Homo sapiens: one gene and its partners. The protein of the gene in region 1 interacts with the protein of each later gene in a pairwise test. Each region holds a gene or a part of one and is shown in the gene's direction. Other genes may lie near its edges. The genes, in order: DDX54, SEMA4A and ZNF394.

Region 1 (3,729 bases):
CAATAGCACCCATACAGCTGTTCTATTTTTTTCTTTCAGTACAGTATTCAATAAGTTACATGAGATACTCAACACTTTATTTTAAAATCGGCTATGTGTGGGATGATTTTGCCCAAGGGTAGGCTAATGGAAGTATTTGGAGCATGCTCAAGGCAGGCTGGCTGAGCTGCGATGTTTAGTGGGTTAGGTGCCGTGCGTGTGTTTTTGACGGCTATTGGGTTTATTGAGACGCAGCCCTTCGTAAGTCACGGAACAGCTGTGGTCTCATTTCAGAGATCACTGTCCCCCATTGCTCTCTGATGACATGGCCGTCATTTTGGTGTGTGTCCATTCTTCTGATGTTTCTATTTTAAGTTGTGGTAAAGTAGACATAGCATGCAATTCAGCATTTTGCCATTTCCCAGTGTGCAGTGGAGTGGCATTGAGTCTGTTCCCATTGTGCAACTGTCACCACCATCTGTCCCCAAAACTTTTTTTTTTTTTTTTGAGAGTCTTGCTTTGTACCCCAGGCTGGAGTGCAGGGGTGTGATCTCGGCTCACTGCAACCTTCACCTCCCAGGTTCTAGCTATTCTCTTGCATCAGCCTCCCGAGTAGCTGGGATTACAGGTGCTCGCCACCAGGCCCAGCTAATTTTTTGTGTTTTTAGTAGAGACAGGGGTTTCACCATGTTGGCCAAGGTGGTCTTGAACTCCTAACCTCAAGTGATGCATCTGCCTCAGCCTCCCAAAGTGCTGTGATTACAGGCGTGAGCCACCATGCTTGGCCCCAGAACTTTTCCATCTTGCAAAATTGAAGCTCTATCCGTCAGACAAAATCTCCTTATTCCCCTCCCGCAGCCCCTGGTAACTGTTATTCTACTTTCTTTGCCTTCTTTTAATTCATAAGTGTCATGTGGTGGGTGCACTTCCCCCTTGTTGCTGTCTGCTGTCCCCTAGTTTCTGTTGCTGTGTGGAGAGCTGGTTCTGCATGTCCCTAGGGAGGTCCCCAGGACGCCCCCAAAGGGAATTTCTTGTGCCTCACAAGACCAACAGTGCCGGTCAGACAACCTCAAATGAAATCTCCAAATGTCATAACACCTTGTTTTCCCAAGATACAGAGACAAACCAAAATATAATGCTATGTAGTGATTTAGGTACTTCATGCAAAATTGCAATCATATTGGGTGTTCTTTTTTATAACTGGCTTTTTGTTTTTTTCTTTTTACATCACCATACATCACGAATGTTTTTCGTTTACTATGAAATGTCATTCTGTGATGGGTTGGCACATCTTTTCTGTAAGGGGCTAGACATGAAACGTTAGGCTTTGTGGACCATACTGTCTCTGTCATAACTGTTCATCTCTGCTGCTGTCGTGTGACTGCTGCCTATTCATTTATATAGATAATATATAAACAAATGAGTGTGGCTGTGTTCCAATAAATCTTTATTTACACAGACAAGCAGGGGGCCGGGATCTCACTCTGTTGCTTGGGCTCTAGTGCTGTGGCATGATCATAGCTCACTGTAAGCTTGAACTCCCAGATTCAAGCAATCCTCCCAGCTCAGCCTCCCAAGTACTTAGGGCTACAGGCACACACCATCACATCTGGCTAATTTTCGTTTTTTGTAGACATGGGGTCTTGCTATTTTGCCCAGGCTGTTCTCGAACTCCTGGCCTCAAGTGATTCTCCCACCTCAGCCCCTCAAAGTGCTGTGATTACAGGCGTGAGCCACCAGCCTGGCCCTGTAGGCTGCAGTTTGCCCACTCTTTTCCTGAGCTGTTTAATTCCCACTGTGTGGCCATCAGCTAATTCACTTATCTAGTCCTCTACCCTTGAGACTTTAGTTTCCAACTTGGGGCTGTCCTAGTCAGGGCCACACTAAACCTCCTTGTGTGTGAATCTTTACATCTTTGCGGGGAATTCTCAAAAGTGGGGACACTGAAGAGTTTTGATCATGCTCATGAGCAGGGCCTTGCTGTATTTTTGCTAGTCTCCCAGAGCACTGTGTCAGCTTGGGCACACTCTCACAGATCAACCTAGGGACCGGGATTAAACTTCCCTGTGCGTAGGTGGGGACAGCAGCCGTGTGAGGTTCGAGGCTTGGCCAGGCTCACCTGCTCAGGGTCTGGCCTGTGGAACTCATGCTGGGTCCGGGTCCTTCTTTGCTTAATTAAGCTTGAACGTCTCCTTGCTGCAGGCCGTGTGGCTCGGGCTGGCCGAAGTGGCACAGCCTACTCCTTGGTGGCCCCTGATGAAATCCCCTACCTGCTGGATCTGCACCTGTTCCTGGGCCGCTCCCTCACCCTCGCCCGACCCCTCAAGGAGCCCTCAGGTGAGTGGAGGCTGGGTGGGGATAGGGGTCCCCGTGGAGTTCATGGGCCCTGTTTTGGCTGTGGGAGGAGGTAGGGCTGGGTTTGACCCCAGCAGAAGATGATTCCTTTTATTTATTTTATTGTATTTTATTTGTTTTGTTTATTTTTTGAGACAGAGCCTCGCTCTGTTGCCCAGGCTGGGGTGCAGTGGTGTGATCTTGGCTCACAGCAACCTCTGCCTCCCAGGTTCAAGCCATTCTCTTGCCTCAGCCTCCCGAGTAGCTGGGACTATAGATGCCCGCCACCACGCCTGGCAAATTTTTTATTGTATTTTTAGTAGAGACAAGGTTTCACCATGTTGGCCAGGCTGATCTCGAACTCCTGACCTCAAGTGATTCGCCCACCTCCCAAAGTGCTGGGATTACAGGTGTGAGTCACTGCGCCCGGCTGATTCCTTCTATTTTTTAACGAGACGGGGTCTTACTCTTGCTCAGGCTGGAGTGCAGTGGTGCGATCATGGCTCGCTGCAACTTCCAACTCCTGGGCTCAAGCAAGCCACTATGCCTGGCTAATCCCTCTATTTTAAACTCAGGATTTCCCACAACAATCCAGATTTCTGGTATCTACTGGGAAACAGTTGGATCTGGGTGCTAAGCTGTGGCACCCCCATTAGACAGGCTTCCTGGTCCCCTGCAGCCCCTGCCTGCCTCCCCTTCCTGTCAGTGTGGCCTGCCCAGCCCCTGCAGGCATCTAGTGTGTGACCCTATACTTGATGAGTTTTCAGGGGAGCGCAGCGGAGGGAAAGAGAGGCTGAGGCTCATTCAGACCAAGCCCACAGGACATTTTTAATTTATTTATTGAGACAGAGTTTCGCTCTTGTTGCCCAGGCTGGAGTGCAGTGGTGCAATCTTGGCTCACCACAACCTCCGCATCCTGGGTTCAAGCGATTCTCCTGCCTCAGCCTCCCGAGTAGCTGGGACTGCAGGCACACACAACCACGCCCAGCTAATTTTGTATTTTTAGTAGAGACAGGGTTTCACCATGTTGGCCACGCTGGTCTTGAACTTCTGATCTCAGGTGATCTGCCCGCCTCGGCCTCCCAAAGTGCTGGAATTACAGGCGTGAGCCACTGTGCCCAGCCGCCCACAGGACATTTCTGTATACATCCTAGAATGGGAATGCATGGGACAGACAATAGCAATCACCATGGCCTCCATCTGTGGGCCTCCAACTATGGGCCTCCACCTGCAGTCCTGCTGGTTCCCGGGCCCTGGACACATCTTGTCTCATTTGTCCATCTGTGCTAGAGGGAGGGCTGTCATCACCTCTGCTTCACAGATGAGAGAACGGCTCTGACAGGCCTACCCGCATGCACACAGCAGGGAGGTGGGGAGCTGAGATTCAGGCCCCCCCAGAGGCCCAAGACTCAAGCT
Region 2 (4,187 bases), on another chromosome or scaffold:
CTGATAGTGTGAACTATTCATATTGGCTAGAGGGGCTGGGGAAGAGGACGTCCGGAGTTGGGAGAATTCTGGATGTCTGGAGGAAGAACTGGGGGCAGGGCATGGAGTCTATGACTTCCAGAAAGGTGGGAATAGGACATCAGGCTGGGAGTGTAGGGCTGGAACTCCCCCAGCCTCCCCGTATCAGAACTCTTCCCAGTGACCCAAATGAGCCAATCTGTTTAAGCAGAGAGGCCCAGGGGCAGACTGGCTTCCCAAATCTGAGCTGGGGGTTGGGGAGACACAGAAGGTAGGGTCTGGATAAATGGGAGTTTCTCTTGATTCTAAGAAACTGGAAGGGACCTGGCAACCAGCCTCTGGGAGAGTCTGGGGGAGTCCTAGGCAAGTCTTGACAGAAACGATTGTCAGGCAGGATATGTCTGAGACCAACCCCCGGGGAAACTGAGAGAGATGAAAGAAGGCTGAGTACCTCAGATGAGGAATTATAAGGAGTAGCCTGAGCTGTAACATCCCCCATGTTGGCTGGTGCTGTAGCAGGAGGGATGGAAGTTACACTACAGGAAGGACTTCCTGCCAGGGAGGAATGTGCATGTCAGATGGAAGTGGATTATTTATTAGAGTTGGATTAGCCCTGGGATGTCTGTGCTCTTTAACCTGCAGTCAGCTGACCATGTCGAGTGGGCAGGAACCTACCCACTTTGTAGGCCACAGAGTTCTTGGCGCTGGATGCCTCATTAACCCCGCGTTATGAGGCTCCCCCTGGAGCCTTTAGGGAGGGGTGAGCAGCCACCTTTGGGGGTTGGGTGCCTCCAAAGTGTGGTCCAGTGAGCACGAGTTCAGATGGGAAATGTTCTGGGCTTTCTACTGGCCTGATTTCTGGGCTTCCTATTGGCCTGATGTCAAAGAGTGATGGAGATTAGACTGCAAGGGGGACTTCCTCAGCAAAATCATGGATAAGAGCCTAATACAATTATTTTATTTTATTTTTTTAAAGACTGTGGCCCAGCTGAGAGTGGGAGGTTTAAAGGTTAGACCACTGCAGGGACTTCCCAGTAGGTAGGAGTAGAGAGACCCCACCTTGTGGGTAAGTGAAAAGAAGAATATGTCATGTCCCCTATCTGGGAAATCTTAAGCAAGAGAAGAAACCACTGCTAGGCTGGTTATACTGGCTGTGACATGATGGAGAGGCAGGGGAATCGCTGAAATGACCTAGAAGGGCCTCTTAAACTTTCTGGTTGGACCGAGCAGAGGAGGGAGAGAGAGGTGTGTCTCTTGTGAGGTGGGTGAACGTCTTTTTATTCCCTCCCAATCCACCAACTTCCGCCCAAGCCAGGATCTGTCACAACTCGAGAGGTGGAAATTCCGGTTTCCCTGGCCTAGAGCTCCCAGTGCTGGCTTTGGCATGATGGGCACCTGGAGGGCCGCACTCCCGTTCCAGCCAGGCTGAGCCTTCTGTCCCCTGCCTCTGGGGCCTGGGAACCCCCCTTCTTCTTTCTCCTGAATGGCACCCCCGCCCTAGAATCCAGACACCGAGTTTCCCACTGTGGCTGGTTCAAGGGTATGTGAGGTGAGATGGGTGGCTTGGGGTGGGTGGTCTTGGGGAAGATTATGTAGAGGCCCAGGGAGGCAGACACAGGAGCAAGAGACAAGGGGGCCGGGGAGCTGCAGAGGCTGGGAGCCGGCCAGCCACCCCTGCCCAGGCAGCTCCCCGGGAAATGCTGATAACCAACCTGGTGGGATGGACCCTCATTGCCTCCCTGGAAGTATCAGGCCAGGCAGGCCTGAGCCTCAAAGACCCTGAACCCAGCTGGGGCTGGGGGAGAGGTTAGAGCAGGCAGACTCAAACCCAGTCTGCCTACCTGGGTCAGAGCTGAGTATGAGGCACAGGTGTCAACAGATCTGAAAGTGACAGGAGAGTAAGGTCTGAGGAATTTATATTTTGGGTACAGGAACCTGCTCCCCAAAATGTTCCCTGCCCAGAGCCAGGCAACGGTTTGGGCTTGGGCTATGAGAAGAGGGAAGGCAAAGGAGGAAAGACAGGAAAGACTTCCTGAGAGTAAGGCAAAAAAAGGCAAACCAGAGCTGTTGGTGAGAAGACAACAGAAGAAGCAGGATAGGGGAGACCTGGGCTCCTACCCATAGGGGACAGTGAGGTGACAGGCTGAGGCCTGGAAGGATGATGAAAGTGAGACCGTCTTAGGGCCCTTCCAGATAGGGAACCTTCTCTGCCCCAATGCCCCACCCCTGCCACCAATACACACGCTTCTGCTGCCTGGGGCTCTCCTATTGGTCCTCGGGGGGATGTGGTAAGAACTGCTCACCCAGAAAGTGCCCGGGTGCCTGTTTCCCCAGAGCTCCCTGGTGACAGTCTGTGGCTGAGCATGGCCCTCCCAGCCCTGGGCCTGGACCCCTGGAGCCTCCTGGGCCTTTTCCTCTTCCAACTGCTTCAGCTGCTGCTGCCGACGACGACCGCGGGGGGAGGCGGGCAGGGGCCCATGCCCAGGGTCAGATACTATGCAGGTAAGTGTCCGACAGCAGGAAGTGTGGGGATAGCAATAGAGAGCTGGAGGTGGGTGGAGGAAGGAGAGAGGAACAGAGGAGGGGAGGAAATGGATATGGAGAAACAGGGACACAGAGAGAGATGCCAGGGAGAAACAGAGGATCTCGGAGAAAGAGAGACACAGCCAGAAACAGAAGTCCAAAAGGAAAGAAAAGCCACTGGAGAGCAGATTGAGGAAAACAGGTGGCCACGGGGCCAGGGGCACGCTTCTTCCAGTTCTCCATGTTGGTAATTTTTCTTTCCTTCCTTAAATATCACTGTCACCAAGCTGGGCACCTCAAACTCCTAACTGCTTCACACTCCCAGGTACCCCAAAGTCAAGGCCCATGCTAGAAGACCATATGTGGACCCGGTGACCCGGAGCTCGCCAGGCCCATGCCAACCACATAGATCATGCTGGACCATACCATGTCCAGGACCATGGGATGGCTGGTTGGAGAATGGGCCCTGGAACCCACACACAAGCACAGCTTGGCTGGTTTCTTACTGAGACTGTGGAGGCTGCTGGCCCCCTCACCTCCAGGGAGAAGACTCAGGAAAGGATGTAGACACTGTAGGAGTTGTAGGTGACTGGGCATGGCTGTGTCTTTAGCATCTTTCTGGGGCAATTGGTAAAAGAAATGTATATTGCTCATTGATGCAGAGACCTCCTCTGTGTTGGATGCTGGGCGCACAAACACGGATAAGCCTCAGCCCCTGCCCTCAAGGTGTTCACAGTCACAAGGGGGAAGACATGAGCAATCAGACCATCAATACAGGGTGATCTGTTCAGCAACTGAGGGGTTTATGGCAGCTCTGGGGGAGGCCTGGCCTCCAGGAGATGCTCCTCCCTGAGGCTGGCCCTTCCATCCCGCAGCCACACCAGATTCCCCAACTTCTCCCCTCTGTACTGTGTAAGATTCCCTGAGCCTGCAAAGGTATCAATTAGCTAGTCAGCTTTCTAACTAATGCAACAGTGCAAGTGCTAATGAGAGAGGATCTGAGGAGCTCCTTCCTCCTTGCCGATGTGCCAGTGGGACAGGAAAATACACCCCCACCCACCCCACCATGCCAAGGTCATGGAGAGGACCTAGGTGAGCCTCCCACACCTGGCTCACCATCCCTGCCCAGGGGACATCCAGCCATGCCCACATGGATCTTTGAAGAAAAATGCTTCCTCTCTGTTCGTGGTGACTCTACTGGTGGGAATTTCCTTTAACAGAAGAGGAAGAAAGCAGGGGTGGTTGGGGGGATGGCGAGAGGGACTCTGACATACGCCCTCCTGTCTGCATATAGCTTTGCTGCTTGTGGCTGCCAACACTTTCCTGTTTGTCTGTCTGCCTGCTGCTCCTCATCCTAGTGAGGACCAAGGCGTCCTCCCCGACGGTAGCCCTCCCTGTCCCAGGCCTGGAAGAGCATCCACTGTGCCTCACTTTATTTCCCGTCCCCATTACCCTGCCTCTGGCTGCCTCTCCTCTCTACTGCGGGCTCAGCACACAACGCTCTTGTGTTGGGGTGGGGTGAAGGGAAGAACTGCTGGTGGAGGAGAGTGCATCTAGCTGCCAAGGCCTGGGGAGCACACTCAGGCAACCCTTCCCCTTCCCCCACTTTTATCTCAGGAGTCAGCTGCCTGCCCACCAAGTCCTCA
Region 3 (2,500 bases), on another chromosome or scaffold:
AAAAATACAGAAAAAAGAATTAGCCAGGCGTGGTGGCAGGCGCCTGTAGTCCCAGCTACTCGGGAGGCTGAGGCGGGAGAATGGCGTGAACCTGAACCTGGGAGGCGGAGGTTGCAGTGAGCCGAGATCGTGCCACTGCACTCCAGCACTCCAGCCTGGGTGACAGAGCAAGACTCCGTCTCAAAAAAAAAAGAAAAAACATTTTATATATATATATACATATATATATATATATATACACACACACACACACACACACACACACACACACACGTATGTATGTATATACATATATATACACATATATATATAGGCTTTGGTACTATACACAATTTCAGGCATCACTGGGGGACTTGGAACGTGTCCCCACAGAGAAGAGGGAACAACTGTATGTTCATCTTGCTCTCCAAAGAGCCCATAACTAATGTATATGCCACCAGCAATACTAATAATTTTTCTTTCTCCATATTCTTGTCAACATTTGCTGTTGGCTGGGTACGGTGGCTCACACCTGTAATCCTAGCACTTTGGGAGGCCCAGATGGGAGGATTGTTTGAGGTCAGGAGCTCAAGACCAGCCTGGGCAACATAGCGAGACCCCATCTCTTTAAAAAAAAAAATTAATAAAAAAAATAGTAATACATTTTGGCCGGGCGTGATAGCTCAGGCCTGTAAATCTCAGCACTTTGGGAGGCCGAGGTGGGCAGATCATGAGGTCAGGAGTTCAAGACCAGCTTGGCCAACATAGTGAAACACCGTCTCTACTAGAAATACCAAAAATTAGCCGGACCTCTGATGCCTGATGTGCAGGGGCCCTGGCACCCTGCTCACCCACCCATCCCTTCTGCTGCCCTTTGCCTGCTCTGGCCACACTGCCTTGCTGCTCCAAAATATGCCAGGCCCCGCTGCCTCCTGGTCTTTGTGCTATGTGACCGCTCTGCCTGGAATATTCTACTCTACTCTGTAGGAAGCAAAGTTTCAGGGCTTTGCTCAAATTGCTCCCTTGTGCCGGGTGTGGTGGCTCATACCTGTAATCCCAGCACTTTGGGAGACCGAGGTAGCTCACACCTATAACCCTAGCACTTTGGGAGGCCGAGGCAGGTGAATCACTTGAGGTCAGGAGTTCGAGACCAGCCTGGCCAACATGGTAAAACCCCGTCTACTAAAACACCTACTAAAATACCTACTATAATACCTACTAAAATACCTACTATAATACCTACTAAAATACCTACTATAATACCTACTAAAATACCTACTAAAAATACAAAAATTAGCCAGGCCAGTTAATGGGCACCTGTAATTACAGCTACTCAGAAGGCTGAGGCAGGAGAATCACTTGAACCTGGGAGGTGGAGGTTGCAGTGAGCCGAGATCACGCCATTGCACTCCAACCTGGGTGACAGAGTGAGACTCTGTCTCAAAAAGATAAAATAAATAGGCTGGGTGCAGTGGCTCATGCCAGTAATCCCAACACTTTGGGAGGCCAAGGCAGGTGGATCACCTGAGGTCAGGAGTTTGAGACCAGCCTGACCAACATGGTGAAACCCCATCTCTACTAAAAATACAAAAATTAGCCGGGTGTGGTGGCACGTTGCCTGTAATCCCAGCTACTCTCAAGGCTGAGGCAGGGGAATTGCTTGAACCTGGGGGGCAGAGGTTGCAGTGAGCTGAGATCACTCCACTGCACTCCAGCCTTGGCAACAAGAGCGAAACTCCATCTCAAAAAAATAAAATAGCTGGGTGTGGTGGCTCACGCCTGTAATCGCAACACTTTGCAAGGCCGAGGGGGGTGGATAACAAGGTCAGAGGAGTTCGAGACCATCCTGGCCAAGATGGTGAAACCTCGTCCCCACTAAAAATACAAAAAAATTAGCCGGGTGTGGTGGTGGGTGCCTGTAATCCCAGCTACTTGGGAGGCTGAGGCAGGAGAATCACTTGAACCTGGGAGGCAGAGGTTGCAGTGAGCTGAGATCATGCCACTGCACTCCAGCCTAGGCAACAGAGCAAGACTCCATCTCAAAAATAAAATAAGATACGATAAAATAAAATATAGGCTGGGTGCTGTGGCTCACGCCTGTAATCCCAGAAGTCTGGGAGGCCGAGGCAGGCGGATCACGAGGTCAGGAGTTCAAGACCAGCCTGGCCAATATGGTGAAACACTGTCTCTACTAAAACTAGCAAAATTAGCACCTGTAATCCCTGCTACTTGGGAGGCTGAGGCAGGAGAATCACTTGAACCCAGGTGGCAGAGGTTGCAGTGAGCCGAGATCATGCCACTGCACTCCAGCCTGGGCAACAGAGTGAGACTCCATCTCAAAATAAATAAATAGCAACAGAGTAATACTCTGTCTCAAAATAAATAAATAGGGAGGCTGAGGCGAGCGGATCATGAGGTCAAGAGATAGAGACCATCCTGGCCAACATGGTGAAACCCCATCTCTAATAAAAATACAAAAATTAGCTGGGTGTGGTGGCGTGCACTTGTAATGCCAGCTACT

The links.
Region 2: the proteins of DDX54 (region 1) and SEMA4A interact in a two-hybrid assay, tested with the Homo sapiens proteins (one large-scale study listed by BioGRID and IntAct).
Region 3: the proteins of DDX54 (region 1) and ZNF394 interact in a two-hybrid assay, tested with the Homo sapiens proteins (one large-scale study listed by BioGRID).

Annotation. Positions count from the first base shown.
Region 1 is NC_000012.12:113,168,357-113,172,085, reverse strand, and holds part of DDX54 (ATP-dependent RNA helicase DDX54), read left to right. Parts: intron 1-2,181; coding exon 2,182-2,316; intron 2,317-3,729.
Region 2 is NC_000001.11:156,152,198-156,156,384, forward strand, and holds the start of SEMA4A (semaphorin-4A isoform 1 precursor), read left to right. Parts: upstream 1-1,387; 5' UTR 1,388-1,567; intron 1,568-2,350; exon of another isoform or gene 2,351-2,352; 5' UTR 2,353-2,381; coding exon 2,382-2,520; intron 2,521-4,187. UniProt on the Homo sapiens protein: Cell surface receptor for PLXNB1, PLXNB2, PLXNB3 and PLXND1 that plays an important role in cell-cell signaling. Regulates glutamatergic and GABAergic synapse development.
Region 3 is NC_000007.14:99,494,861-99,497,360, reverse strand, and holds part of ZNF394 (zinc finger protein 394), read left to right. Parts: intron 1-2,500. UniProt on the Homo sapiens protein: May be involved in transcriptional regulation.